Linked DNA regions of Homo sapiens. The protein of the gene in region 1 interacts with the protein of each later gene in a biochemical or structural test. Each region holds a gene or a part of one and is shown in the gene's direction. Other genes may lie near its edges. The genes, in order: ANAPC11, UBE2K, PTTG1 and UBE2S.

Region 1 (6,602 bases):
AAGTAAAATAAAATAGAAACAGGGCTCACGATGTTTCCCAGGCTGGGTTCGGACTCCTGGGCCGGTATGATCTTCCTGCCTTGGCCCCCTGAGTAGCTGGGACTGCACTGTGGCAGGCTTATACCTGTGTTGGTGCCTAAACGTTCTAGCTCTGCAGACTCAATTTAGCCAGTCGTCCTGTTCCCTCCGCCGCAGGCTCTGCTGCCATGAAGGTGAAGATTAAGTGCTGGAACGGCGTGGCCACTTGGCTCTGGGTGGCCAACGATGAGAACTGTGGCATCTGCAGGATGGCATTTAACGGATGCTGCCCTGACTGTGAGTGTCCCCTCCATGCTGTCTGAGCGGCCCCGACTGTGAGTGTCCCCTCTGTGCTGTCTGCTGCCTGCTGGACTAGCCTCAGTAGCTCCTGTTAAATACCTGCACGAAATACCCAGTTTCATTTTCTTTTTTTTTTTTTTTTTTTGAGACCGAGTTTCGATCTTGTTTCCCAGGCTGGAGTGCAATGGCGCGATCTCGGCTTGCCGCAACCTCTGCCTCCCGGGTTCAAACGGTTCTCCTGCCTCAGCCTTCCAAGCAGCTGGGATTACAGGCATGTGCCACCATGCTGGGCTAATTTTTTTATTTTTAGTAGAGACGGGGTTTTGCCTTGTTGGCTAGGCTGGCCTTGAACTCCTGACCTCAGGTGACCTGCCCGCTTCAGCCTTCCAAAGTGCTGGGATTACAGGTGTGAGCCACTTTGCCTGGCCCACATTTTTATTTTCTTTTCTTTCTTTCTTTTCTTTTTTTTTTTTTTTTTTTTTGAGATGGAGTTTCACTCTTGTTGCCCAGGCTGGAGTGCAATGGCGCGATCTCGGCTCACTGCAACCTCCGCCTCCTGGGCTCAAGCGATTCTCCTGCCTCAGCCTTCCAAGTACCTGGGATCACAGGCATGTGCCACTACACCCGGCTAATTTTGTATTTTTTAGTAGAGACAGGCTTTCTCCATGTTAGGCTGGTCTCGAACTGTCAACCTCAGGTGATCCACCCGCCTCAGCCTCCCAAAGGGATGGGATTACAGGCGCGAACCACCGTGCCCCCCCCAACATTTTCATTTTCATCTCATGAAGAAAAGTTGATAGAAAAAAAGCCAGGTGGTTGGTACCCATGTTTATATAAAGATCCTGTCACAGACTCCATAGGATGAAACTCAGCTGTGAAATACGTGGGATTAAAAAGAGATTAGAGTCTGGGCGGGCAGATCACAAGGTCAAGAGATGGAGGCCGGCATGGCGGCCCACGCCTGTTATTCCAGCACTGTGGGAGGCCGAGGCGGGCGGATCACAAGGTCAAGAGATGGAGGCCGGCACGGTGGCTCACACCTGTCATCCTAGCACTGTGGGAGGCCAAGGTAGGCAGATCACAGGGTCAAGAGATCAAGGCAGGGTGTGGTGGCCCACACTTGTCATCCCAGCACTGTGGGAGGCTGAAGTGGATGGATCTCAAGGTCAGGAGATTGAGACCATCCTGGCCAACATAGTGAAACGCCATCTCTACTAAAAATACAAAAATTAGCTGGGTGTGTGGCGTGTGCCTGTAATCCCAGCTACTGGGGAGGCTGAGGCAGGAGAATCTCTTGAGCCTGGGAGACGGGGGTTGCAGTGAGCCAAGAGCAAGACTCCATCTCAAAAAACAAACAAAAAAAAGATTAGTTTAAACTTTTTATTTGAAAATTCTCAAAATTGAATGGCATAGGCCAGGCGCAGTGGCTCACACCTGTAATCCCACCACTTTGGGAGGCCAAGGCAGGCGGATTGCTTCAGGCCAGGTGTTCGAGACCAGCCTGGCCAACATGGCAAAACCCCGACTCTACTAAAAATCCAAAAAAATTAGCCGGGCATGGTGGCAGGTGCCTGTAATCCCAGCACTTTGGGAGGCCGAGGTGGATGGATCACCTGAGGTCAGGAGTTTGAGACCAGCCTGGCCAACATGGTAAAATCCCGTCTCTACTAAAAATACAAAAAAGTAGCCGGGCATGGTGGTGCATGCCTGTAATCCCAGCTACTCAGGAGGCTGAGGCAAAAGAATCGCTTGAACCTGGGAGGCAGATGTTGTGGTGAGCCAAGATCGCACCATTGCACTCCAGCCTGGGCAACAAGAGTGAAACTCCATCTCAAAAAAAAAGAAAAAAAGTGGAAATGTTTGATTATGTTTAGGTTGAAAGCAGAGTTTTGCATCAGCGAAATGGTTTTTCATGAGACCGAAATGAGCGTAAAGCAGAAGCAAGGGTCAAGGTTTTGCCCAGGGAGGACAAGAAGAACTCCCCAGAGGACAGTGGGGAATGGAGAGGACAGTGGGGAATGGGGAGGACCGAGAAGCTACTCACTACCCCAAGTAACCAGGCGTATTTTTGTAGGGCCAGGTGCATGCCCATATTGATTGACAGGGTCTCACTGTGTTGCCCAAGCTGGACGTGAACTCCTGGGCTCCAGCCATCCTACTGTCTCAGCCTCCCAAGTAGCATACCACCACACTCATCTGCCTCCTTTGCTTTTTTTTTTTTTTTTTTTTTTTTTTTTTTTTGAGATAGAGTCTTGCCCTGTTGCTCAGACTGGAGTGCAATGGCACCATCTCAGCTCACCGCAACCCCCACCCTTCTGAGTTCAAAGGATTCTCCGGCCTCAGCCTCCCAAGTAGCTGGGATTACAGGCATGCACCACCACAGCCAGCTAATTTGTTGTATTTTTATTTTTATTTATTTATTTATTTTCGAGACAGAGTCTCACTCTGTCACCAGGGCTGGAGTGCAGTGGCACGATCTTGGCTCACTGCAACTTCCGCCTCCCTAGTTCAAGTGATTCTCCTGCCTCAGCTTTCCGAATAGCTGGGACTACAGGCGCTCGCCGCCATGCCCAGCTAATTTTTGTAGTTTTAACAGAAATGGGGTTTCACCATGTTGGCCAGGATGGTCTCGATCTCTTGACCTCGTGATCCGCCCACCTCAGCCTCCCAAAGTGCTGGGATTACAGGCATGAGCCACTGCGCCCAGCCCTTGTTGTATTTTTAGCAGAGACAGGGTTTCACCATGTTGGCCGGGCTGGTCTTAAAACTCCTGACCTCAGGTGATCCGTCCACCTCGGCCTCCCAAAGTACCAGGATTACAGGTGTGAGCCACTGCACCCGCCCCTGTCTTTGCTTCTTAAGGTGAAATTGAGATGACTGAATCTTAGTACAATTTTTTTTTTTTGAGACAGGGTCTTGCTGTCACCCAGGCGGCAGTGCAGTGTGGCAAAATCATAGCTCACTGTAGCCTTCAATTCCTCAGCTCAAGTGATCCTCCCACCTCCACCTCTCAAGTAGCTGGGACCACAGGCATGCTCCACAATGCCTGGCTAATTTTTTATTTTTTTATTTTTTGTAGAGACAGGGTTTTGCTATGTTGCCAAGGCTAGTCTTGAACTCCTGGGCTCAAGGGATCTGCCTGCCTTGGCATACCAAAGTGCTGGGATTACAGACGTGAGCCACCATGCCTGAACAAAACTACATAAATTTTTAATTTTTTTTGTGGAAATGGAGTCTCACTATGTTTCCCAGGCTGGTCTCAAACTCTTGGCTCTGTCCTGCCACAGCCTCCCAAAGTGCTGGGATTATAGGTGTGGCGCCTGGCCCGTACAAATACTTTTTATTCTAGGCTTAACTTTTACATTGGCCCTAGCTAAATAGAAATCTCATCACTCAGGAATTAATCCTCATTTAATCAAACGGGTAGGGTGTAATCTTAGGAAATTATTGATTGACTCTACCTGATTGGATTTGTAGTTAATAGCTAATTAGGTTAATAACTAAATTCACAAGGCACAGTTTTATTTGATCTCTTTTAAATTGCTCTTAAGGATGTAACAAAGAGTGCGTGGGATGCCCTGAGGGCAGGCATTCGACTTCTGGAGCAGCAGCTTAACTTCTGAAATTCCTCCGAACCATGTGTCCACACCTCGTCTGGCTGCATCCGTGGGCCAGATGTGGGTGGTGAATCCTGTGGATTAGAGGTGGTGCTAGGTAGCCCCCAAGTGACTGCAGTGGTGGGTCCACAGGCAGCCTGCAGAGCCCGCCCTGCAGCATGCCAGCTGGGCCTGTGATGGGGCATCCAGAGGGTGTTGCCCTGAACACTCAGCATGTCTCCGCTGACACAGTGTGCTCAGGCTTTGTTAACATGGGGCCTGTTGGCTGCAGAGACTCAGGAGTTGAGAGTCTAATTTTTGGACCTGCTGATGGTTAAGTCATAGTGAGTCAGTGTTAACGCGCAAAGCGTTTGACGAGTCCAATGTGCTTCCATACTAAGCAGCACCAGGTTTCTTTTGCTAAAATTGAACTCCTGTGAAAAATTCAGAGTGACTAAGTTCATTCAACAAAGACCGTGGGAGCCCGAGGCTGGTAAACAATGAGTCCATCCCGCATCCCAGGGGACTCTGGTGGCAGTGCAGTTTTGCCGAGAGGAGTTTTAATTTAAAAAAATGCAATCAGGAGACCAGCAGGTCCTGGAATGAGTCACCCTCAGTGCATCTGCGGACTCATCAGACACCCCAGGCCGGCTTCGGGTGGGGAATGCACTAGAACGAAGTGACACCTTTGACTAAACGAGGCCTCCCCCGAGTACTCAGAGTGGCCCAGACCCCTCTCCTCAGGGGGCTAGCAGGCTTCAGCTCTCATTTGAAAGGGCCGATATCAAGCAGAGTTGTGCTGAGGCCAGAAACCCCCACGGGCAGGTCCTCCCAGGGCTGGGAGTGGGCATGCCGTGGGGCCGGCGCTGCCAGGACAGGAGGGTGGCCACGAGCTCCAGCTCCACAATGCCAGGCCGACCCTGCCGTGGGGCTGGGGCTGGGACTTGCTGTGCTCTGTTGGCAGCAGCTGTTCCTCAGGGGTTTCCAGGCTCTTGGAGATCAGGGACACTCATTTCTCTTGATCATGGCTGATACAAGCATCCCTCTCTGTGTCAGGTCCTCTCCATGGAGAAAGCATTTCTAGGTGTTTGGGCTGGTGCCCGCAGCCTGTGCCTGTCCTGGGAGGCAGGGCCCATCCACAGGTGCCCATCAACACAGCTTCCCCAACGCCTGGGCAGCACACCGGATCCCTGATGTCTAGGGAAGAGTCTTCTAGGTCCCCAGACCCCACCCCTCCTGCCCTTGATCAAGAGACCAGTTCACTACTCAGATGCACGTCTCCTTGGTGCCTTGACCATTCATGTGACCTTTTTGGCATCACAGATCAAGTGTCTGCAGATGGGCCCAGGGCCTGTAGGTCAGACATTGCCCTTTTTCCCCAGCCTCAAGCACAGGGGACACAGGGTGGGCTAGGCCAGAGCGCCACCTCCTCAGAGAGGCCCCTGGGCTCCCCACTGAGCATGATGAGCCTGGGTGAGGGGAGGCGCCTGCTGCGGTTGCCCCGGGTGGAGGCCGCATGTCCGGTGTCCCTTGGTCATTGCTGGTCTTCGCCTGGGGGCGGGCTGGTCAGGAGACCGATTGGGTAACACTCCTGATTTCGGCTTCTCTGAAACATGAGAGGCTGCAGTGCTGGAGCCACTGCCCAGGGTCCCTACCTGCACCCCTGCCTGGCTTGTCACATGCTCTGTGTCCAGCCTGGTCATGCCTGTCCTTTTCCCCACCTCCCCTCCGTAGGCAAGGTGCCCGGCGACGACTGCCCGCTGGTGTGGGGCCAGTGCTCCCACTGCTTCCACATGCATTGCATCCTCAAGTGGCTGCACGCACAGCAGGTGCAGCAGCACTGCCCCATGTGCCGCCAGGAATGGAAGTTCAAGGAGTGAGGCCCGACCTGGCTCTCGCTGGAGGGGCATCCTGAGACTCCTTCCTCATGCTGGCGCCGATGGCTGCTGGGGACAGCGCCCCTGAGCTGCAACAAGGTGGAAACAAGGGCTGGAGCTGCGTTTGTTTTGCCATCACTATGTTGACACTTTTATCCAATAAGTGAAAACTCATTAAACTACTCAAATCTTGCTGGAGGCCTCTGGGTGCCTGTGTTCTCGGCATATAGATGTGGTCTCGGTGTGTTTTGATATGAAAACTCTCATGAATAAACATCTCCGTGAAACGCCAAGGCCCTCGTCAAACCCTGAGTCATGACTGGGAGGAGAAGGAGCAGGATCAGACGGTAGAGCCTGGGGCATGCTCTTCAGGCATGCTCTTGCCTGCTGGATTGCCGGCGGCGGCCCTGGGACCCTCCCTCAGGCTGGCTCTGAGGGACCCTGGCTGTGCAAAGCTGGCGGCCACTGCTTGTGGCGCCTCCAGACTGAAGGCCACCATCTCTGAGTGGGCGTCCATTGTTCTCACTGGGACTGTCTGCAGCGGGGCTGGGCCTCCCACAGTGTAGGGATCAGTGTCCTGACACTGGGAAGTGTGTCCACACGTCTGAGGCTTCCCTTCCTAGGGAAAGGTGGCCCTGGGAGGCTCCTTTGTGTGCCTCTGCTCCCCACAATCGTGGTGGGAAGGGGCCGCTGGGGGAGTGGCAGCCCCGGCATCTCAGGCTGCTTCTGGACAGAGCACAGGCTGTGTCTCCAGTAACCTAGGGAGCCCTTGGCATTCATGGGGCCAGTGACCCGTGCCCAGTGTCTCTTG
Region 2 (7,569 bases), on another chromosome or scaffold:
ATATTTTCAGAAAAATGTAAAAAAAAGTACTAATTAGAAAGTAAGTTTTTAAATCCTATGTTTTTATTAAAAAACAGGATTAATTTGGAGTGATGTGAACTTTGAAAAATATGGGTTTTAAGTCATGTATTGTTTATGAACTAAACGTTCTGTACTAAAAAATATTTAACATAGAAAAAGAGTAAAAATTGTGGTTTTTTTTTTTGGGTTGGAGGAGGAAGCCAAAGACAGTAATTCTTACACTGTTTCATCTAGTAATCAAGTTTAAGAAAGTCAGTCTAAAAGCAAAAAACATAAGAGTAGATATGTTGTGTCAATCAGGTAACAATATGGAATTCTAACCAAAAAAAATGAAGATATAGGCCGGGCACGGTGCCTCACGTCTATAATCCCAGCACTTTGGGAGGCCAAGGCGGGCGTATCGCGAGGTCAGGAGTTCGAGACAAGCCTGGCCAACGTGGCGAAACCCCGTCTTGACTAAAAATAACAAAAATTAGCTGAGCATGGTAGTGGGTGCCTGTAATCCCAGCTACTCAGGAGGCTGAAGCAGGAGAGTCACTTGAACCCAGGAGGTGGAGGTTGCAGTGAGCCGAGATCGTGCCATCGCACTCCAGCCTGGGCAGCAAGAGCAAGACTCCGTCTCAAAAAAAGGAAGATGTAACCTGTTCTTTAGGGATTTTGGTTTAAAAAATCGAGAGGATTTACTGTATTTTTAACATAGGTTTGAGAATATAAGTGGAGAGCCCATTTGCTGGCAGGCACTTACGAATGTTAATGTGAGTCCCACTGGATGGTTTTCTGAATCATTTAAGGTTATCATGGCTCTGAGAATGGACTGTCATAAGGTTAAGAGACTCAGTAATGCTATAGATAGGAAAGTACTTGGAGTAGTTTAAAGTGCAAAATAAGTCAATGTAGATAAATTTAAAGTAGAAATCTGGTTTTTTGAAGTAGGTAGTTGCCGTTTTAATAAACTAAGCAGAAAAACAAATTGAAGAAGGCCTTTTCTTTTGAGGCATTTAGTCCTCTGGAATTTTTCATGGAAAGGAGAATCTGTTAGGTAGCTAGAGCTTTCACCATTCTGGTGGATAGTGTACTATTTCAGTCAGTTAAACTAAACATTTAAAGTTGTTATGGTTAGTTCAAGTGAGAGTTTATGGCCTAAATGGCTTTTAATGACCCTGAATTTTCTGTTTAAGCAGAACCCATGTATCGTGGGGGTATAGTGCAGAATATAATATCTTAGTGTTCATCTGTGGATGATTAGATTTATCGCTTTGGGCCTGATATACATGGAATTGGCAAACATAAAATAGCTTTTATACTATTTTTCCCTAATAACATTCCTAGAAAGTCAAGAAGCCATTGTATTGTTGTTCATAGTGGTGTTATTTCGTTTAAAACAATGAAGTTAGAATTTATTAGTTTGTTTTAAATATTCTTAAAACTGGATAATTAAGTCCTAGAAAAGCCGAGACTTATTTTACTAGAGCAGATAATCAAGCTTATGAAAGAGGGGGTTTCAAGATTTTTTATAGGTAATACTTTAGGCGTTTTTCTTGCTGACATAACTAACATTTATTTTCTGTTTATTTTTAAGACGAGCAAAAATCAAATTAAAGTAGATCTTGTAGATGAGAATTTTACAGAATTAAGAGGAGAAATAGCAGGACCTCCAGACACACCATATGAAGGCAAGTACTTTTTTCTGTATCAAAATATTGTGCGTATTAGAACTTGTCTGAAACATTTAATCAGAATAATCTTAAACATCTATAAATTATATGGAGGGTAACTTCATTTGGTTTAGATAAACAGCAATTTAAAAAATACTAAATTTAGATACTGAATATAGACTGGTATTTCTTACTGAATTTTAGCTAATTTTTTTCTTTCCATAAAACAGTTTTAGCAGAGCTTTGTTACAGGTATTATAGGTTAGAATTTAATAGAATAAAAGATCTGGCATGGTAAACCTCTAAATCATATGGACTGTAGACACTCAGTTACCCTTCATATGGTATCTAAAACAGACCTTGCCTTAAATATCTCATTGGTAAAATGTTGCTTTTGTTTTTAAAGTTCTTCTTTCTGTCATTCAGCATTTCATTCACTCATGTCTTCATACAGGCTGTAGTCCAAATGTTTATTTTCTTTATTCAGGAAAGCTTTTAGTGATTATTTCAAGCCATAGAAAGGAGGTGGCTTTGCTGAACTTGGTGTTCACAAATTAAGTCTGTAGCTACTTTAGACCATGGAATCGGGTGGTAAGATACAGAAATAAACCTTATAGCATTTTACTTTCTTATTAGGTGAGTCTTCATTAATTAATATTACTGTAAATTTAGATTATATAGCATATAACCAAGGCTCTTGCATTAATAACTATTCAAATATTTGTTTATTAGAAAACATATAACAATATATGGTAACCCTAATTATACAGTCTTTACATGTATTTTCTCATTTAATCCTTTCAGCAAATCTTACTAGGTAAATACAACGATTGCTGTTTCATAGATGAAGAAACAAGTTAAGAGAAGTAACTTGTTTAAGGTCAACCATCTAAGTAGCACAACTGATAGCCTTTGTCTTCAAAGCCTGTGCTTTTAATCACTTTATGTAAATCAGAATTGACTTAATATTGGAAGTGGTGGTGATGTCTGTTTTGTTTTATCTATTTTTTTATATGCAAAGTTTTACTGTTACCCAAGCTGGAGAGCAGTGGCATGGTCATAGCTCATTATAAATTTGAATTCCTAGGCTCAGGTAATCCTCCAGCTTCCTCAGTAGCTAGTACTACAGGTGCATGCCACCATATCCAGTTAAATACTTTGTGTGTGTTTTTTGTTGTTCATTTTTTGATTGTTTGTTTTTTGAGACTGAGTCTCTCTGTCACCCAGCCTGGAGTGCGGTGGTGAAATCTTGGCTCACTGCATCCTCCATCTCCCAGAATCAAGTGATTCTCCTGCCTTAGCCTCCTGAGTAGCTGGGATTACAGGCGCACCACCATGCCGGCTAATTTTTGTATTTTTAGTAGAGACAGGGTTTCACAATAACGGCCAGGCTGGTCTTGAACTTCTGACCTTAGGTGATCCGCCTGTCTTGGCCTCCCAAAGTGTTAGGATTACAGGCGTGAGCCACCAATCCCGGCCACCAGCTAAATACTTTCGAGTGGTTCTATAATTCTGTAATGAACAGTTACCCAAAACACTTTTTTTTTTTTGAGATGGAGTCTCGCTCTGTTGCCCAGCCTGGAGTGCAGTGGCGCGATCTCGGCTCACTGCAAGCTTCGCCTCCTGGATTCACGCCATTCTCCTGCCTCAGCCTTCCGAGCAGCTGGGACTACGGGCACCCGCCACCATGCCCGGCTAATTTTTTTTGTATTTTTTTAGTAGAGACGGTGTTTCACCGTGTTAGCCAGAATGGTCTCGATCTCCTGACCTCGTGATCTGCCAGCCTCGGCCTCCCAAAGTGCTGGGGTTACAGGAGTGAGCCACCGTGCCCGGCTACCCAAAACACTTTTTAAAAATCTAATATTCTTGAATATTTTCTTGTTTTTAATCCAGATTTTTTAAGACCCTAGAATGTCTTTAGCATATTATACCAATTCTGTTTATTCATTTTTTTTTTTTTTTTTTTTGGGAGACAGAGTCTTGCTCTGTCTCTCACGCTGGAGTGCAGTGGTACGATCTTGGCTCACTGCAACCTCCGCCTCCCGGGTTCAAGCAATTCTCCTGCCTCAGCCTCCCGAGTAGCTGGTACTACAGGCGCCCGCCACCATGCCCGGCTAATTTTTGTATTTTTAGTAGAGGCGGGGTTTCACCATATTGGCCAGGCTTGTCTTGAACTCCTGACCTTGTGATCTGCCCACCTCAGCCTCCCAAAGTGCTGAGATTACAGGCGTGAGCCACCGCACCGCACCCAGCCCATTTTTTTCTTTCTTTATTGGAGAGATGGCATCTTGCCAAGTTACCGAGGCTGGTCTCAAACCCCTGGCCTAAAACAATCCTCTTGCCTTGGTGTCCCAAAGTCTTGGGATTCTAGGCATGAGCCATTGTGCCCAACCTTGTACCAATTCTTAAGTGATAAAATTTTATTTTTTGTTTTATAGTTCATACGAGCCATTTCTAGATATTTAATTTTTTATGCTGTTTATCGAGTGCTTCCTATCTGCTTGGCTTGGTCTGGCAGTTTTCATGGATGCTGTTTCATTTAGTCCTTTTTGCAATCATTAAATGTAGAGGAGACCTTTAGTTATCTTTAAAAAATCAGATGCTTGTCCTAATAGCAGATGTTTTTATATAATAATATACTAGCTTCTTCTTGAAGTCAGACCTTATAGTTATTCTTGAATTTTTTTTTAGGTTGTTTTGAAGTATTTTTGGAAGATAGTAGGGCAGTGACATTATTCTAGAGGTCTGTCAGCAAAGTTTTAAATTTTTTCATTGATTTTTATAAACAAGGCACTTCCTGAGCTAAATTAGATAGAAGCAATATTTAATAGGTAGATTAATTTTTTTAATTGGATAATGTATACTTATATACATTAAGATATATTAAGATACACTAATTAGCCGGGCGAGGTGGTGGGCGCCTGTGGTCCCAGCTACTCGGGAGGCTGAGGCAGGAGAATGGCGTGAACCCCGGGAGGCGGAGCCTTCAGTGAGCCCAGATCGCGCTGCTGCACTCCAGCCTGGGCGACAGCGAGACTCTGTCCCAAAAAGAAAAAAAAAAAGATACATTAAGATATATTCTTATGGCCGAGTGCGGTGGCTCACACCTGTAATCCCAGCACTTTGGGAGGCTGAGGCGGGCAGATCACGAGGTCAGGAGATCGAGACCGTCCTGGCTAACACGATGAAACCCCGTCTCTACTAAAAATACAAAAAAATTAGCCAGGCGTGATGGTGGGCGCCTGTAGTCCCAGCTACTTGGGAGGCTGAGGCAGGAGAATGGTGTGAACCCGGGAGGCGGAGCTTGCAGTGAGCCGAGATTGTGCCATTGCACTCCAGCCTGGGCAACAGAGCAAGACTCCGTCTCAAAAAAAAAAAAAAAAAAAAGATATATTCTTTATTGGTTAGAAACAAGTTTGGTCATTTTTTTTCTTTTCTTTTTCCCGATACCGAGAATGGGACCAAAAGTTTGGTCATTTAAAAGTGCTTATATCTGCCTGGGCGGGGTGGCTGATGCCTGTAATCCCAGCACTTTGGGAGGCTGAAGCAGGTGGATCACGAGGTCAGGAGTTCAAGACCAGCCTGACCAACGTGGTGAAACTCCATCTCTACTAAAAATACAAAAATTAGCTGGGTGTGGTGGCGTGCGCCTATAATCCCAGCTACTCAGGAGGCTGAGGCAGGAGAATCCCTTGAATCCATGAGACGGAGGTTGCAGTGAGCTGAGATCGCACCACTGCACTCCAGCCTGGGCGACAGAGGGAGACTGCATCTCAAAAAAAAAAAGTGCTTATTTCTGCTGCTGCTGCTGCTAAATGAATATTTTGATAAGATTAGATTTAATATGCTTTTTATATATTTGAGGTAGAGTAACTTGAATTCTGTTATTTTATATAAAACTATTGAGAGAAGTTCATTTTGTTAAGGAAAACACCATTCAAGGACATAAACTTTAATGCTTTTTCTTTTAAATGTGACGATAGGTTAAATGTTTATTGCAAGGATGTTGCAGTTTTTTGAGTTTTTAAAAATCTAAACTTAAATGCTAAAGCAAAAGTTTACATGTGGAATGTTAAGCAATTTATAACCATTATTAAGTAATGAGGCAGCTGTTTTTGTAGTATTTAAAGAATCAGATTGTGAAGTAGAGTACTCACGGGAAAATGCCATATTGTGGATGTTACTTAACTCAATTTTCTTCACTTCTTTTGCCTTAATAATTCAATGACAAAGGAACAGTTTAGTTCTTGAGCTTTTCTTCCTAAAATTTCTTTTAGGTTTATGGAATCATTGTTGACAGCTTAAAAATTCTCATTCCTTCCTCATCTCCTCTTTGGGTTAAGTTAAATTTAAAGATTGTTAATTTTTAATATTAAAAGCTATTCTTCAAGAAGTTAATGTTTTAAAGTAAAAACTATTATAATATGAATAATATAGTTATCATAAGGATTCCTTAGTTGTATTACCCTGATCAAATAATGCTATGATTAATGCTAAGTGGTCATATATTGAAAGTTGTCAGAGCGTGTAACATAAGGGATAGAAATAAGATTTTAGAGACTCTCGAGTCCAGCATTATTTATATAATATCTGTGGGCCCTCACACTGCTCCTAAGAGATTATTTTGGCCATTAACAAAGAACTTTGTATGATGGGTTATAGAGATGGTTTAATCTGGAGTTTAATCAGAAAAAAAAAATTCTTAGGAAGGAAAAAGAAAAGCCTATGTAGTGCTGAAGCCAAATTTATTATAACTATATTTGAAGCTGGCATTTCTAATTCTGGGTATAGACAGTTATTGTCACAAAATTTCTTCAGGTACCCTTCTCTTACCTGTCAGTTTTTTTTTTCTTTCCACTACTTTTCTTTAAATTTCATTATTGTTATATGTTCTGTGATTCAGGCATTTAGTTCAACTCATGCATGAATCACTATGGGATTCTATTAAAAAGAACTAGCCACGAGGCATAACGGCTCATGCCTGTAATCCCATTACTTTGGGAGGCTGAGGCGGGTAGATTATTTGAGGTCAGGAGTTTGAGACCAGCTTAGCCAGCATGCTGAGACCCTGTCTCTACTTAAAAAAAAATTAAAAAATTAGCCAGGCATGGTGGCGCGCACCTGTAGTCCCAGCTACCCAGGAGGCTGAGGTAGGAGAATTGCTGGAACTGGGAGGTGAAGGTTGCAGTCAGCCGAGATCGCACCATTGCACTCCAGTCTGGGCAACAGAGTGAGAATCCGCCTCAAATAAAAAGTAGCCAGAAGAGAGGCCAGGCGCAATGGCTTATGCCTGTAATCCCAGCACTTTGGGAGGCTGAGGCAGGCGGATCACCTGAGGCCAGAAGTTCAAGCCCAGCCTGACCAACATGGTGAAACCTCATCTCTACTAAAAATACAAAAATTAGCTGGGCATTGTGGTGGGCACCTGTAAACCCAGTTACTCAGGAGACTGAGGCACAAGATTTGCTGGAACCTGAAAGGTGGAGGTTGCAGTGAGCCAAGATTGTGCCTCTGCACTCCAGCCTGGGCAACAGAACGACCCTGTCTCAGGAAAAAAAAAAAAAGAGAAGGATTCGAAACAAAAAGGGCTTGAAGAAAATAGTACCACTTTTATTTTTTCCTCAGATTCATAGTCATCCATCCATTCATAACAATGGAGGAGTGAGGAGATACATTTGAGAGAGTCTAGAATATACTGAAGAAAGTCTCTTGTTTGACTTTTTGAAGAGCTGAGTGTATAGAATTTTGAAGATAATGTTCCTAGCACACAGTTTTTTATTTTACTTTTTATTACAGGGAATTTCAGATATATAAAAAAGAAGAATAGGCCAGGCGCAGTGGCTCATGCCTGTAATCCCAGCTCTTTGGGAGGCCGAGGCGGGTGGATCACAAG
Region 3 (7,444 bases), on another chromosome or scaffold:
ACCAGCCTGGCCAACCTGGCGAAACCCCGTCGCTACTAAGCATATACAAAAAAATCAGCCAGGCGTGGTGGCGTGCACCTGTAATCCTAGCTACTCGGGAGGCTGAGACAGGAGAATCACCTGAACCCAGGAGGCCGATATTGCAGTGAGCTGATATTGCGTCACTGCACTCCAGCCTGGGCGACAGAGCTAGACTACGTCTCAAAAAAAAAAAAAAAAAAATGACGCTCCAAAGGATTTTATCATTCGTACTCTAAAAACTGACATCTTTTTAACACACCTACACGGTCCACCATGGTCTGGCACCTGCCTACCTTCCAGCCTCACCATTACAACTATCCCCGCTTCCTTCTCTACTAACTACATAGACCTTCTTGTAGTTCCTCTAGTTCCTCTAACAAACCGTGCTCCCTGTAGACACTGGGCCTTTACACAAGCTCTTTCCCAGTGGAAAGTGCTCAATGCCTGGGGGTCTACGATGCTTCTCAAAGGTGTTCTCTTCTATGTCTGACCTATAGAAAACCTCCACATATATTTGTGTAACATATAAACTGATGGCCTAAATATACTGCGAAGAGAAGCACAACAACGGTAAATTTAATCTTTATTAAAACAGCTACCATTTCTCGAGCCTACCGTGTATCACCTCATCTAATCTTCACAATAAGCCCAGTAGATAGGTCTGATGAACACCATTTTACAGTGAAGAAACAGGTTCTGAGAGGTAAGATCCTCAGCCAAGAACACATTGTAGTAAGAAATAAGGACTTCAAACACAACTCTGACTCCAAAGTCAGTTCTCTAAACCAGTATGTTATACTTGTCCACAGAACATTGGCTTCTGGGCCTAAAATATTAAAAACTAAAACTGAATAAAGTATTATAGTCACCAAGTTGTACGCACTAGTTTCCGTCGCTGTGGAGGGACCTATTTTCTCCAACTAAAAACAGTAATAGCTCCCACTTACTGAGGGCTTACGTAAGACACTGTTTAGCGCTTTACTTACATAGATGTTTTCATTTATACCCGCATGATACCCCACTGAAGTCGGATCATCTCGACTTAACAGGAAAAACTGAAGCTCAAGTAAATTTTTCTGGCGAGGAAATACAGTCTGTCAATTTGGGTACTGGAAGCAGCTTTCCCTGCTCGCAGTCCGGGGATTGCTCAAGGTCTTCGAGGCACCGCCACAAAGGCGACACTCTCATAGTTATCCCGACTGTTTCCCTGAAGACGCAGGCCTGGCCTGGCAGGGCACGAGTGCCATGAATGGGTCTCAGGACAGTGGCTTTTCGGTCCCCCGTCCTCGCTCCCTCAACACCTGAGGGCTCATCACCCCCGTGAAGATATATCCAATAATTAGGAGCCTTCGACTCATTTTCTCAGGTTCCCCAACTCCCCGTCGCCCGCAAGTTCTAACAATATTTTCTTACCCAGCCCCGCCGCAGCTAGCCCCAAGTCCATCCGACAGAATCCAAGCCAATCTCGTAATGTTTACTTCCGGCTTTTCGCCTAATTCCGGCGGCCACTGCGGTAACTTCCGGATGACCGGCACATGCGCACTAATTTCCTGGCGGGGCCGGGGGCGGAGGGGGGCCCTCCAGTGCTCCTGCGCCGTGGGAAACGCGAGAACTCTAGCTGCTGCGTATCGCGCTATTTACCCGGCTTGTGGGGAGTTTCAAGTTGGGCGGCTACTTTTTGGCTTCTATTTAGGAGCTTTCTTTTAGAATCGGAGAATTTTAGGAAGTTAAAAAAAAAAAAAAAAGACCAGAACAGACAAGAGCTTAAGCCTCACCAGGGGACTATGAAATGAATGGGGAAGTTGGTGACGTATCAGCTTAAAAAAAAAAAAAAAGCAGTTAAACTTGGCACTAATTAGTAGCCAGGCTGTGTAACATGCTGGGGATTTGGTGAACAGTGTCTTCCCTCAGATTTACATCAGAGTGCGAAAGACACCGAAACAACTATTCAGATTTAGCAGCTGTGAAAAGTTGCTATGAAAAGAATACCAGGTGCTGTGAGAACATAAGGCATGTTATCATTAGAAAAAAATACGACAATTTCCATTTTGGAGAAACAGTATCTATGCTATCCCATCCCTTCTTTAAAAGTATACATGTGAAATAAAACACTGGAAAATAAACTAATTTTCGTGGTAGAATTTCTTGTGATTTTTTTTTTTCTTTGTGCTTTCTATTCTGGTTGTTCTCCCCCTCCCCCCCATAACGTGTATCCTTTTTGAATGTAAAAGTAAAAGTAGCTACCATTCCTGCCTCAATAAAATAGCCCAACATAATAGAATCTATTTTTTTCGTATTAAGAATTTGCAATACCTGGAGTTTAGGAACATAAATATTAATTTTGCTTTTACAGGGCAGTAGATGAAGAAACAGTGTCAGAGACTAGCGTGAAAGTGAATAGAGTCTATGAATCACTCAGGCTTTGTTTTTTTCCACTTAAAAATATTCCTGAAATTTGCTTAGGAGTGTTAAGGCCTAATTAGCCAAAACCACCAGGAGAGCGCATCTCGAAGAGGAATCAGAAAGCGCAGGACAAGACAGTTGAATCTTTTCTAAGACTTGAGGTCCCTCTGGAGGGTTCTGAGGAAGGTCTAGGAAAGCCGGGATTGGTTCTGGATGGGTTGCTGTTTGTAAAGAAGGATTGGGAGAAACTGATTAGGGACTAAGTGCTGTTATGAGTGAGGGTGGTTTAGCAATTGAGTATTTCCAGTAATAGGAATAGCAAAGCTGGTCTGAGGGCATCATTAGTAAGAAAACAGTGGTTATTCAGAGAGGGTGGTTATGGTTTACAGCTGCTGCATGACCTTAGGAGAAACAATGCTTTCTGTTGGTGAAAAAAAGAAGACATCCTAAGACAAACCTTGCACCTCAAAACCTCTGTAGATAGAGAATCCCCACTTGGAAGCTATAGGTGTTGTGCAGATTTAGTCTTAAAAATTAACACTTTGAGTGCTGATAATATAATATGATGATGTAAAATTTAGGAGATACAGGAGGAAATAAAGGATGGGGATAAAGGAAAAAGAACAGTGAAGGGACAATAAAGGTATGCATATTTTTCTGTCTTTCCTCTTTTCTTCACCTTAAGTTAGGCTCTTTTCTTATAACCTAGTATAATGTCCAGCATTTAATAGGTATTCAATAAATATTTGTGAATGAATGAATCATTCAATCAATATTGGTCCTGAAATGCCAGGGAAAAAGAGATGATGAACTGGCATATATTGAGAACCATGTCTATGTCAGGTATAGTGTCAAGCCTTTCGTGAAAGAGTAATATGGAATCAACTCCTCTCTCTCAGCTGATCTGCAGCTTAAAATGCATATATGGTGAACTGTGGGAAGCGGAGTTTGAATGACACAGGTCAGCCTTATGTTTTAATTTATATCTTCATCTTGTAGTTGTTCAATGTATTCCATTTTACTATAGAAACAGGAAAAGGTCGTCAACTTTTTCAAGCAAAATTTCTTTTCATATCTGGGAAATTGGAATTCCTTTTTTATATCTTTATTATCTCTCTGATATTCTCTTGCTCCCTGGCCAAGCCCTTCCAGGCAACTTTGGTTAATATATTATTGAGATGTTAGAGGTTTAAAATAAATCACTATCAAAGGATAGAATTTTAAGGGAAGACTAAATTATGTATTCATTAGAATCATAATTTTGTTCCTAAGACAGATTCGTGATGGTATAATAGAAACAGTGTCTTAGCCTGAAGTATTGAGGATAGTCCTAAGATTAGGGAACGATCAGTTCGTTCTTAATCATAAGCATAAGAGAATGACTCAAACGCTGCTGTTTGATCTACCTGTACTTACATTTCTTCTTAATTTTAAATTCTTCTCTGCTAGTATTCTTTAGACCCAACATTGGTTGTTTCCCCTATTTCTTCAATATTTCTATTTATTTTCCATCCTTTTTACAGGGTCATCTAAATAAAAATATCTTAAAGCAATAAACCATTGTTATTGAGTCAGTACCTCAGTCCATGCAGCTTAATAATATGGAGAGCAAAAAAAAAAAGCCTCTCGATTTATTTTTTAATATTACACGATCCTAGTTTTTTCTTCCCAGAAAACGTGCCACAAAGTTTGCAAGAAAGAGCTTTTGGGGCGGAGCCCTGGCTGCTTAGGTCCTTTCCATTGGTTCTACTTGGTGACCACGCCCACGGCCCCGCCTCCTGGGCGGAAGAGCCAATTGGGCCGCGAGTTGTGGTTTAAACCAGGAGTGCGCCGCGTCCGTTCACCGCGGCCTCAGATGAATGCGGCTGTTAAGACCTGCGTGAGTGAATGGGAGGGTCGCGGGTGGTTAGTTGAGCCGGCTCCGGCGGGGAAGGAGGCGGGCTGCGGCTGCGGCTGGGGCTGAAGCTGGGGCTGGGGTTGGGGGACTGCCCGGGGCTTAGATGGCTCCGAGCCCGTTTGAGCGTGGTCTCGGACTGCTAACTGGACCAACGGCAACTGTCTGATGAGTGCCAGCCCCAAACCGCGCGCTGCTCGGGACCTTAGAGCCTCTGACTCAGGCTGGAAGATTTGAGAGCTGGATTAAGTACTTGTTGGCTCACGCCCGTGACTGTTCCGCTGTTTAGCTCTTGTTTTTTGTGTGGACACTCCTAGGATAGAAAGTTTGGTATGTTGCTATACCTTTGCTTCTCCCACCTTCCCCAATATCTAATATGTATTTCTCATTCTTAGAATAATCCAGAATGGCTACTCTGATCTATGTTGATAAGGAAAATGGAGAACCAGGCACCCGTGTGGTTGCTAAGGATGGGCTGAAGCTGGGGTCTGGACCTTGTAAGTATACAAGGCTGCAGTCGGATACACTGGTATTGTGGACGTGGCCTGGAGCTGGACGAGACATTTAGTGTACTTTTTGGGCAATTGGAGTCGTTTGTTATTGGTCCTTTTTCATTTTTAATATCTTAATGAGATGATTTAAGGAAGTTACTGAATCTCTGCTATTAGGCCTATCATAGCCATGCCACTACCAAAAGTGGGGGGTGGGTTTGGGGGTGAGAGGTCAAGTTTATATACACAGTATTTAAGTTGTACAGGTATTTTGCTGCTGGAATATTCTTATGGTAAGACTTTTTCTTCAGCAATCAAAGCCTTAGATGGGAGATCTCAAGTTTCAACACCACGTTTTGGCAAAACGTTCGATGCCCCACCAGCCTTACCTAAAGCTACTAGAAAGGCTTTGGGAACTGTCAACAGAGCTACAGAAAAGTCTGTAAAGACCAAGGGACCCCTCAAACAAAAACAGCCAAGCTTTTCTGCCAAAAAGGTAAGTGTTGGCTATAAAGACACTGTTTAAACACTTAAGCACTTTTGACTCTTAAAATGACTATTGGCATCATCCTACGTAGCTTTCTTCCCTCTGAGTAGAAGGGAAATAGAGGTTAGCAAGCAGAGTAGTGGAGGAGACTCAGATTGTCCTTGTGGACTTCTTGGTACCTTGAGATTGGAAATCTCAGATGCAGCTAATGCATATTTTTGCCTCATGCATATTTTTGCCTCACCTGTCCTTCACTAGTGTCGTGAAACTGGTTGGTGGTGTCTACTTACAGATACATACTGAGAGAGAGGGTGCCTTAAGAGAAACTGGTTGGTGGTATCCACTTACAGATACATACTGAGAGAGAGGGTGCCTTAAGAGGTTCTGTTGCTGCTTTAATAGCACAGGTGCTGCCATTCTCTTAGCCTTCCAGGGCAAGCAGCAGCTTGTTAGGTGACAATTTGCTAGCATGTTGATCTTCGTGTGAGTGTGAGTCACAAGCTACAGGTCTGTGTATCCCAGATGAGAGGACTTTGCTGTGAAAGATGACATTAGCATGTGGATTAACACTTTATTTGAATAACTGTTTTGTTTAATTTGCATTAGGAAACAACTAGTGAATTACATATAGTGCAACTTAGGACAAAGATGTCTTCTTTAAAAAGTGAATTAACTTAAAGAAAAATATTAAATACAGGAATTGCAAAGACATGGCAAAAACAATGAGACACAGAACCGAAGTGTGAGAACCCCATAGGGAATTCTAGGCATGCATATGTGAGGTGAGATAAAGCAGGAACATGCCGGCTTCCATTGTAGCACCCTTCTATAGTAGACTGTAGTAGACCTGTCAACTCCAGACTAGAAGATTGCCCATGGTGTTTATTCTAAAGTCCTTGACAGTGTCTTGCTGCCTCTTACTCAGTGTGTGTATTTGAGGAACACAAACTTGTTTTTAATATTAACCAAGCAAATAATTTAAGGTAACACTTGTGGAAAAAATCACACTCCTATAAGCCAAAAATGGCTTTGATGATTAGCTACTATCCTGGGTGATTCATGCCCATTTTCTCCTCTGTTAGGTTGAATAATTGCATTGATTAGCTCTGAATTAACTGCATTCTTGATCACTTATGCTGACAGGTGCTGGTACTTAAATTTCAGATTTTAACTTTTGAGTCATGCTACTCGAATTACATTTGAATCATATTATTTGAAGTATATTTAGGTGCAATTATGAAAACTAAGGATTATGGCTTCTTAGAAGGCAGCATGAAATTGACAAATTTAAAAACTAATCAGCTAATAAGACTTCCACTGTCACTAACCCATATTTTCTTTGGCTGTTCTAGATGACTGAGAAGACTGTTAAAGCAAAAAGCTCTGTTCCTGCCTCAGATGATGCCTATCCAGAAATAGAAAAATTCTTTCCCTTCAATCCTCTAGGTAGTATCTTTTGCAATTGCGAAAAGTGCTTTTGGCCTTTAGTTTCTTAGTATTCAGCTCAGCTGTAACTTGTTATGAATATAATATATGACCAAAAACTATGATGAGACTGTCTGAATCTGGGTTGCTTTGGACAAGTGTACTTGTTGATGGAATTATTTGCAAGGTATCATCTTAGGTCAGGAGGGGAATAGGAACAAAGATGTAGAAGACATTGTTCCTGTCTGTAAAAGCTTATCACCTAGAGGAGGTAAGATGTATTCATGAACATTGAATAAGTCCCATTGTGGACAGTCTTTCTCACAAGGCTTTTAGAAGTGAGCTTTATGTCAAGTTGAGCAATGCCTGAGAGTAATTTGGTAGGATTATTTCTTTGGTTTGAAAAATCTACATAAGACAGTGAAGACATGTTTTTCAAATTTCTTCAACCTGCTACATGTATCTGAAGTATTTTCTGTTTTGGAAACAGCTTTTCAAGCTTTAATTTACTCAACCATTTCAGGAGAAGCTACTGTGTGTCAGGCATCCTTAGGTCCTGGACACACTGTTTAACAAGATGGGCCCTGCCTATGGGAGCCCATAATTTGAAGGGAAAGTCAGATGCTGGACAAGTCATCTCACTGTGAGTGAGCCAGAAAAAACAGCATTGTAGGTCAAAGTGGTGCAAAGATCGTGAGGTAGGAAAAGAGACTAAAGTGGTTC
Region 4 (8,399 bases), on another chromosome or scaffold:
AAAAATGCAAAAAATTAGCTGGGCTTGGTGTTGGGCGCCTGTAATCCCAGCTACTCGGGAGGCTGAGGCAGGAGAATCGCTTGAAGCCAGGAGGCGGAGGTTGCAGTAAGCTGAGATCACACCACTGCACTCCAGCCCAGGTGACAGTGCGAGATTCAGTCTAAAAAAAAAAAAAAGAATAATGGCCATCCAAGTTGCTGAGAATGCCATTATTTCATTCTGTTTTCTGTTTTATGGCTGAGTAGTATTCCATGGTGTATATATACCATATTTTCTGTATCCACTCATTGGGTGATGATGGGCATTTAGGTTGGTTCCGTATTTTTGCAATTGCAAATTGTGCTTCTATAAACATGCATGTGTATGTGTCTTTTGCATATGATTTCTTTTCCTCTGGGTAGATACCCAGTAGTGGGATTGCTGGATCGAATGGTAGATCTACTTTCAGTTCTTTAAGGAATCTCCACACTGGTTTCCATAGTGGTTGTACTAGTTTACATTCCCACCAACAGTGTAAAAGTGTTCCCTTTTTACCACATCCATGCCAACATCTATTTTTTTTTTTTTTTAATTATGGCCATTCTTGCAGGAGTAAGGTATTATCTCATTGTGGTTTTAATTTGCATTTCCCTGATAATGAGTGATGCTGAGCAGTTTTCATATGTTTGTTGGCTGTTTGCAATATCTTCTTTTGAAAGAATTGTCCATTCATGTCCTTTGCCTACTTTTTCATTGGATCATTTTTTTTCTTGCTGATTTGTTAGAGCTCCTTGTAAATTCTGGATATTAGTCCTTTGTCAGATGTATAGCTTGCAAATATTAAAATAATGGCAAAAACCTCGATTTATTTTGCACCAACCTTAATATAAGGTGAGCGATGAGGATCCAGTTTCATTTTTCTACATGTGGCTTGCCAGTTTCCCCAGCACCATTTATCGGGTAGGGTGTCCTTTCCCCATTTTATGTTTTTGTATGCTTTGTTGAAGATCAGTTGATTATTGTGGCATGAGAGCAGAGGAAAAACATGGTTAACAGAGAGTATTCCCTACCTACCACAACATGTAGTTCCTTCTAAAATACCATGTTTTCCTTATTTATTATGTTTCATTTTTGGTTCTGTCTTCCTCAACTACAGTAAGCCCTTTGTCTATCTGTTATCTGATGCATCCCAAGGACAAAGATCTTTGTCTATCTGATCTCTGATAAATCCCAAGCACCCAGATTGGTGCCTGGCACATAGTAGGTGCTCAATAAATATTGGTTGAATGTATAACATCTTCAGTCTGTCTGGCGCCCTGCTAGGGACTGAGGACAAGATCCCTGCTCTGCTGGGGCTAATCTTCTAGTTGGGAAGAGTCAAACACACAATCAGGCAAATAATTGCAAATCCTGATAGATCATGAAGTTCAAAGAGGATGAAGCAAAGAGAGCATGGGAGGGGAGGAAAGAGGAGAGAAGCTGCCGTGAAGGGGTGACGAGTTAGGGTAAACCTAGGAGATGAGAAGAAGGAAAGGGGAAAAGCACGACCGGCACAGAGAACTGCCTGTCCAACTGTCCTCAGGGTAAAAAGCTTGGCGTATTCCAGGAACAAACAGAAAAAGGCAAGGAAGCCTCAGGAGATGGTGCAAGGGCTTATGGGTTTTTGGGGAGTCTGGGGCTTATGCAAAATGTAGTGGGGAGGAGGACTCTTGAGTTTTCAGCTGGGGTGGGGCACGTGGGATATGTGTAAAGCAGGGAGCAAACTATAGCTCAGGGGCCTACTTTGGCCACTGCCTGTTTTTGGAAACACACCCATTAGTTTTCTTAGGAGCTACAAGGGCAGAGTTTAGTGAGTTGGACCAGAGACCAATGGACCACAGCATTGGAAAACCTTTTTGGAAAAGGTCTGCCTTCCCGGTTTTCAGGTGATTATTTAGGGTACAGGTGATCCCTCCCGCTCCCTCACCCCAAGTCCAATCTATACCAGTTGCTGTTGACATCATCTCATCACTTCCCCCATTCCTAATGCCACCAATCCTGCTTGGAGCCACCATCATCCCACCTGAACAAAGGTAATCACCTCCTCATTGGCCTCCCTGTTTCTGTTCATAAGTCTGAAGGAGTCATTCTCTGCTCAAAGCCACCAATGGCTCCCCATTGCTCAAAAAACAGACATACTTTTCACCATGGCCTAGGAGGCCCACCAGCAGCCCCTCACCTCTCCCACCTCAGAGCCCTCTACTTGCTCTGCCTCACTCCAATCCAGCCTCGCTGGCCTCCTAATGTTCCCTAAAAGCACCAAGCACAATCTTCTTGACACCTGCTGTTCCCTTTGCTCAAAATGCTTTTCCCATAGACCTTCCAACAGCCCAAATGACCTTTCCTCAGACAGATTCTCCCTGCCCAGCCAAGGTAAAATGGCAGCCCCATCCCTCCCTCTCAAACCTCCCCCTCCCACTAATTGTTCCTGTCTTTATCACTTGCTGATTGTTCTTCAGTCTTTATCACTTGCTGACATGATGGTATAGACTTACTTGCTATCTGGCTCCCGCACCAGGATGTAAGATCCATGAAAGTCGAGGCTTTGTCCCTTTTATTCTCTGCTGTATCCCATAGCATCCTGACAGCTAGAGTGTAGACACTAATAAAGAAGAACAAATGTATTGAATAAATGCAGGTATCCAGAGGGGATCATAATAATTAATAATATCCACCCATTATGGTTGTTACAAGGATTAAATGACATCAAGCATGTAAAGAAACTAGAACAGGGTCTGGCACACAGCAAATAATACATAATAACCATTAGTATTATCATCATTATTGTTATGTCTTTTGGGTGGATTTTTAAGATCAAGACGAATTTAGCCACTAGCTTTGCCTTGTCCCAGCTGGGGAACCCCGAGCAAGTCACTTTACCTCCTGCTCCTTCAGCTTCCTTGTCTGTTAATTGGGTTGGAATCCTCCACACCCAGCAGGCTAAAATTGAAGATCAGCAAAATGCTTATCGGCAAAATGGGATGACGTTGACTCTAAGCAGGACTGGTGGCATAGCGGATGGGGGGACGTGATGAGATTCAGTAGATGACGTCAACAGGAACTGGTATAGATTGGACCTGGGGTGAGGGAGCAGGAAGGGATCACCTGAAGCCATTTCTCCACAAACTAGTTATGATGATGACTTTTTATGCTGTAGCTGTTTCTTCAGTTGTTTTGGGTTTGTTTGTTTTGTACATATTGGTGGGGGTCTCTCACTATGTTGCCCAGGCTGGTCTTGAACTCCTGGGCTCAAGTGATCGACCTACCTTGGCCTCCCAAAGTGCTGGGATTATGGGCGTAGTCACTGTACCCGACCATGTAGGTTTTGTTTTTTGGTTTTTTTTTTTTTTTTGCTTTTTTGTTTTTTGAGACAGGGTCTTGCTCTGTTGCCCAGGCTGGGGTGCAGTGGCGAGATCTCAGTTCACTGCAACCTCCACATCCCGGCTTTAACCGATTCTCCCATCTCAGCCTCACGAGTAGCTGGGATTACAGGGCTGCATCAACACACCTGGCTAATTTTTGTATTTTTAGTACAGATGGGGTTTCACCATGTTGGCCAGGCTGGTCTCAAACTCCTGACCTCAGGTGATCTGCCAGCTTCAGCCTCCCAAAGTGCTGGGATTACAGGCGTGAGCTACCACGCCTGGCCTTGGCCATGTAGATTTCTTTCACACCTTCCTTATTCCTTCTTCAGAAGCTGAGGCCCCATGAGGGGAAGCTGGTAGCCAGGGGTCTTTTCAGGTACCTGTGGCCAAATTAGGCCCAGATGTTAATGCTCTCATCCATGGCTGAAAAAGGCCAAGAAACTAAGAAGAGCTGTGGACGCACAGACTGGCAGAGACACCGAGAGGGCACTGCGACCGCACTGCACAGATGAGCAAAGGAAGGCCAACTTCAGCATTCCCTCCTCCTCTCTAAGCCCCTCCAAAAGGCCTGCTCAGGGAGCTCTGGCCACCGTTCTCAAGCAATTGCCTGACGTTTTTACTGACACTGAGGGCTGGAGATGGTCCCTTTTCCAGGCAGCTATGTGTCCATTTCCTAGAGAGGGAAACTGAGTCCCAGAGAAGGCGGGTGTGGCTGGAGGCCATGGGTCAGTCATAGGCATAACCATGCCGTGAATAACCGTCTTGGCACTCTCTGACTTCTTTCCCTGGCAATACAACGGATCCCAGTGCCCATTTGTCACATAAGGAAACTGAGGCTGGCGTCTTCGATGAAGCCTGGCAGGAGTGGGGGTCACACACGGAGTGCAAGGCTGTCCAAGCCTTCAAGGTCATTCTGACTGATCTTTGAGCCTTAGCAATACAGGACGTGGGTCCAAGAGCATTTCCAGCACAAAATGGCGCCTCATAGAAAAATGTAGTCGGAGTTCCAGCGCCCACCTCCACCACGGCTCAAAGGAGGGGGCGCGGGCGGCAGCGCACACTTCATTTGCATATACAAAAATCAACGGATTTCGTTGGCTGGCAGCGGTTTGATCTGCACGAAACTGGGTCGCCCTCTGACCGGTCTCTATCAGTCATTGGCCCATGCGAGTCTCGTGACCCACCAGTCACTAAAGCGCATCCCTATTGGCCCGAGCGCCTTCCATCACGCGTTTAAAACCCCGAGTCCCGCCTCCCCTCGCCACGCTCCGGCCCCCAGGAAGACCGTTAGTCGCGTGCGCGACTTCCTCAGCGTCAGGGCGCGCCCGCGCGTATGCCGGGCCGTGGCGGCGTCTCATTCAAACGGTCCAATCAGCGGCCGCGTCGCCTTCCCCGTCCCCCTTCCTCTCTTCTTCCCCTTTTCAGCCCCTCCGTTCTTTGAGAACCCTCCCGACCCCCGCGGGCCCCCATTGGCCGGCCCGCTACCCAGCCCTCTCCGCCACTTCCCTCGCTTCTGACCATAGTTTGCGGGGAAGGGAGCGAGCGCGTCGAAAACCAAGGAACGTGCGCGCTGACGTCACGGTTGAGGCTCGGAGCTGAGGGGCCGCGGAGGGCGTGGCCTGCGGGCGGTTATAAAGAGGCAGTGGTGCGCGCGCGGCCGGCTCAGTGCTGCCGGGCACCGGGGCGGCGGGTTGGTCTACGCTGTGCGCGGCGGACGTCGGAGGCAGCGGGGAGCGGAGCGGGGCCGCCGGGGCCTCTCCAGGGCCGCAGCGGCAGCAGTTGGGCCCCCCGCCCCGGCCGGCGGACCGAAGAACGCAGGAAGGGGGCCGGGGGGACCCGCCCCCGGCCGGCCGCAGCCATGGTGAGCACGGGCGATGAGGCCCATGAAGGTGGTCGGGGGTGTCCCTGAGGGAGGAGGTGGAGTCTCAGGGGCCTCCGACGGGCGGCCTTGAGGGGTTTGAGGGCCAGCCTGGGGGTCCCTGACCCGGGATGGGCCCGAGGGCCTTCCCGCAGGCGGAGCAGGAGCTCGGGCGGCCCGCAGTCTCCCTGGCGGCGAGGGCTCCGGGCGCTTTGCGGCCCGCCCATGGGTGTTACCAGGAGCAAGGACGCCCCGCCGCCATCTCCAGACCTGAGCCGGGGTTTCAAGGATGCTCTAACCAAAAATTAGTGGAGAAGGGGGAGAGAGTAGATCTCTGGCCTACGTGGAACCACTGGGGACCAAGCAGGGTTAGGAGCGGGCTTTGGGGGGGGGGTTCTGGGGTGGGTGGAGTTATCTGCAAGCCCCCCCGTGAACCCGCCCCCATTTCTGTTGGAAACTCTGCCTGGGCTGATGGCCTGAAGCATCCTGGGTGAGGGTCTGGGAGTTCAAGGGTGATTGACAGCCTGGGGCCACTGAGTCAAGACTTGGGCAGTCTCAGCATCTTTAGGCCCTGCGGGAAGCCCAGCTCTTAACACTCGCTCACCCTGCTCTCCCATCCGTGCCCAGAACTCCAACGTGGAGAACCTACCCCCGCACATCATCCGCCTGGTGTACAAGGAGGTGACGACACTGACCGCAGACCCACCCGATGGCATCAAGGTCTTTCCCAACGAGGAGGACCTCACCGACCTCCAGGTCACCATCGAGGGCCCTGGTGAGTTTGGAAGGAAAAAGAGAAGGGGCTGCTGCTTAGATCCTCCATCACCCTGCTCTAGATCACCCTAGCGGGAAGTACCCATTACAGGCTGGCCTCGTGTCAGGTGTTGGGATGCATTGGTGGACAGGGCAGGACGCCACAAATGACAATTATGTACTCTTTTCCCACAAGGGTTGAGAAATATCTGGTCATTGAGTTAGTATATCATGGGACGGTACTCTAGATTTGAAGCAAGGCTTTCAGACATGGCTTCCCTGGACCTGAGGGTGGGTAGGAATTAAGTAGGAATGGGAAGAGAGCTCCAGGTGGTGGGAATGGTGTCAGCAAGGGCCTGGGAGGGTGGGCCAGGTGATCTCAAACTCCATCCTGCTGTGAGTGTCAGGGATGAGGAAACAAGCCAGATGCAGATCGTGGGGAGACGGGTCATGAATGATTTGCGGGTCACATGATTTGCGGAGTGATTTAGAATACTGTTTCATGCAGGCTACATTTCTGTTATCACCAGAATTCCTACAAAGTCAGGATTTGAGCAGAGCCTGTGAAGGAATGGTCTAGTCCACGGTGGTGATGGTGGTAGGTGGTCAGGAAAGACCTGGCAGCGGTGACAGTTGAGGTCCTTCATGCCTTGCTGCAGAGGGCGCGGGATCATGACAATAGGAAGGCTCCAGAAAGGCCCTTGGGCAGGTGGAGCTGGGCGCTTGGTAAAAACACATGAAGAAAGTTGATGATGAAGCTGCCAAGCTCTTTTAGGGCTTCTAGGCCTCTTCAAGGAGTTTGTAGAGGAAGCTGGTGGAAGGTTTAAAGCAGGGGTGTGACAAATCCCTCCAAAGTTCCTATTGACTGTAGTGAGGAGAGCCGGCCTGGCAGGGGGAAGAACCCAGAGGCCAGCCAGGAAGCTAGCCTTGGAGATGGGATGAGATTCAGGGGAGGACCTAGCAGGCCGGTGCTCAGGCTGCTGATGGGCTAGGGGAGGGACAGTATTTTGACCCAAGCAAGTGGGTGAGTGGGAGAGGCGTTCACTGGGTTGGGAGGCTGTGGAATTAACAGACAGTTGGATCCTTGATCTGAAAGGCATATAAATGGGCATCTTATAGGAAAGTGCGTACTTGGGTCCCTGCCACCTGGGAAGGGCCTGTGACTGGAGTGGTCAGTTGGGCTGAGACGGGGGATCCAGGAGGGTGCAGACGAGCTTGATAGTGACACAGGTGGGGGCTGCAAGATGGGCATCATCTCTGAGGTTTTGGGGGAGGTCCTGTGGCCCCCTAGGAACCCAGCCATTCTTGCTCTTTTTTTTTTCTCTCTCTAAACGGAGTCTTGCTCTGTCGCCTAGGCTGGAGTGCAATAGCACAATCTCTGCTCACTGCAACCTCTGCCTCCTGGGTTCAAGCAGTTCTCCTGCCTCAGCCTCCCAAGTAGCTGGGATTACAGACGTGCACCACCATGCCCAGCTAATTTTTTGTATTTTTAGTAGAGATGGGGTTTCACCATGTTGGCCAGGCTGGTCTCGAACTCCTGACCTTGTGATCCGCCCGCCTCAGCCTCCCAAAGTGCTGGGATTACAGGTGTGAGGCACCGCGCTTGGCTTTTTTTTTTTTTTTTTGGAAACAGAGTTTCGCTCTTGTTGCCCAGGCTGGAGTGCAGTGGCGCGATCTCCGCACACTGCAACCTCCCCATCCCGGGTTCAAGGGATTCTTCTGCCTCAGCCTTCCGAGTAGCTGGGATTACAGGCATGCACCACCACGCCTGGCTAATATTGTATTTTTAGTAGAGACGGGGTTTCTCCATGTTGGTCTGGCTGGTCTTGAACTCCTGACCTCAGGTGATCCACCCGCCTTAGCCTCCCAAAGTGCTGGGATTACAGGCGTGAGCCACCACACCTGGCCTCTTGCTCTTAAGAATTCTACAGCCTGACTGGGCATGGTGGTTCACGCCTGTAATCCCAGCACTTTGGGAGGCTGAGGTGAACAAATTGCTTGAGCCTAGGAGTGCAAGACCAGCTTGGGCAACATAGTGAGACCCTATCTCTTAAAATAAAAAAGTAGCCAGACCTGGTGGCATGCCCGTAATCCCAGCTACTTGGCAGGCTGAGATGGGATCACCTGAGCCCAGGAATTGCAGGCGGCAGTGAACTGAGATTGTGCCACTGCACTCCAGCCTGGGTGACACAAGAGACCTTATTTCAAAAAAAGAAAAAAAGAATCCTCCAGTCTGTTGGCAGAGTTGGCGGGGCACCCACCTGCATCACAATCAGACCGTGGAGACTGGACTTTGGGGTGTTGAGGTGCCTTGGGACTCCTGAGTGCCCTGACCCTGTACCCCTCCCTCCACTCCAGAGGGGACCCCATATGCTGGAGGTCTGTTCCGCATGAAACTCCTGCTG

The links.
Region 2: the proteins of ANAPC11 (region 1) and UBE2K form a complex in vitro, tested with the Homo sapiens proteins (3 studies listed by BioGRID).
Region 3: of the proteins of ANAPC11 (region 1) and PTTG1, one has a biochemical effect on the other in vitro, tested with the Homo sapiens proteins (3 studies listed by BioGRID).
Region 4: the proteins of ANAPC11 (region 1) and UBE2S form a complex in vitro, tested with the Homo sapiens proteins (31 studies listed by BioGRID).

The regions. Positions count from the first base shown.
Region 1 is NC_000017.11:81,894,272-81,900,873, forward strand, and holds the end of ANAPC11 (anaphase-promoting complex subunit 11), read left to right. Parts: intron 1-195; 5' UTR 196-206; coding exon 207-315; intron 316-4,970; coding exon of another isoform or gene 4,971-5,271; intron 5,272-5,648; coding exon 5,649-5,794; coding exon of another isoform or gene 5,795-5,879; 3' UTR 5,880-5,984; downstream 5,985-6,602. UniProt on the Homo sapiens protein: Together with the cullin protein ANAPC2, constitutes the catalytic component of the anaphase promoting complex/cyclosome (APC/C), a cell cycle-regulated E3 ubiquitin ligase that controls progression through mitosis and the G1 phase of the cell cycle.
Region 2 is NC_000004.12:39,735,820-39,743,388, forward strand, and holds part of UBE2K (ubiquitin-conjugating enzyme E2 K), read left to right. Parts: intron 1-1,600; coding exon 1,601-1,694; intron 1,695-7,569. UniProt on the Homo sapiens protein: Accepts ubiquitin from the E1 complex and catalyzes its covalent attachment to other proteins. In vitro, in the presence or in the absence of BRCA1-BARD1 E3 ubiquitin-protein ligase complex, catalyzes the synthesis of 'Lys-48'-linked polyubiquitin chains.
Region 3 is NC_000005.10:160,417,589-160,425,032, forward strand, and holds the start of PTTG1 (securin), read left to right. Parts: upstream 1-4,266; 5' UTR 4,267-4,303; intron 4,304-4,321; exon of another isoform or gene 4,322-4,713; 5' UTR 4,714-4,724; coding exon 4,725-4,815; intron 4,816-5,120; coding exon 5,121-5,305; intron 5,306-6,648; coding exon 6,649-6,742; intron 6,743-7,444. Other genes in the region: pre-mRNA-splicing factor SLU7, read right to left, coding at 1,435-1,465. UniProt on the Homo sapiens protein: Regulatory protein, which plays a central role in chromosome stability, in the p53/TP53 pathway, and DNA repair. Probably acts by blocking the action of key proteins.
Region 4 is NC_000019.10:55,404,432-55,412,830, reverse strand, and holds the start of UBE2S (ubiquitin-conjugating enzyme E2 S), read left to right. Parts: upstream 1-5,042; 5' UTR 5,043-5,241; coding exon 5,242-5,244; intron 5,245-5,868; coding exon 5,869-6,016; intron 6,017-8,352; coding exon 8,353-8,399. UniProt on the Homo sapiens protein: Accepts ubiquitin from the E1 complex and catalyzes its covalent attachment to other proteins. Catalyzes 'Lys-11'-linked polyubiquitination.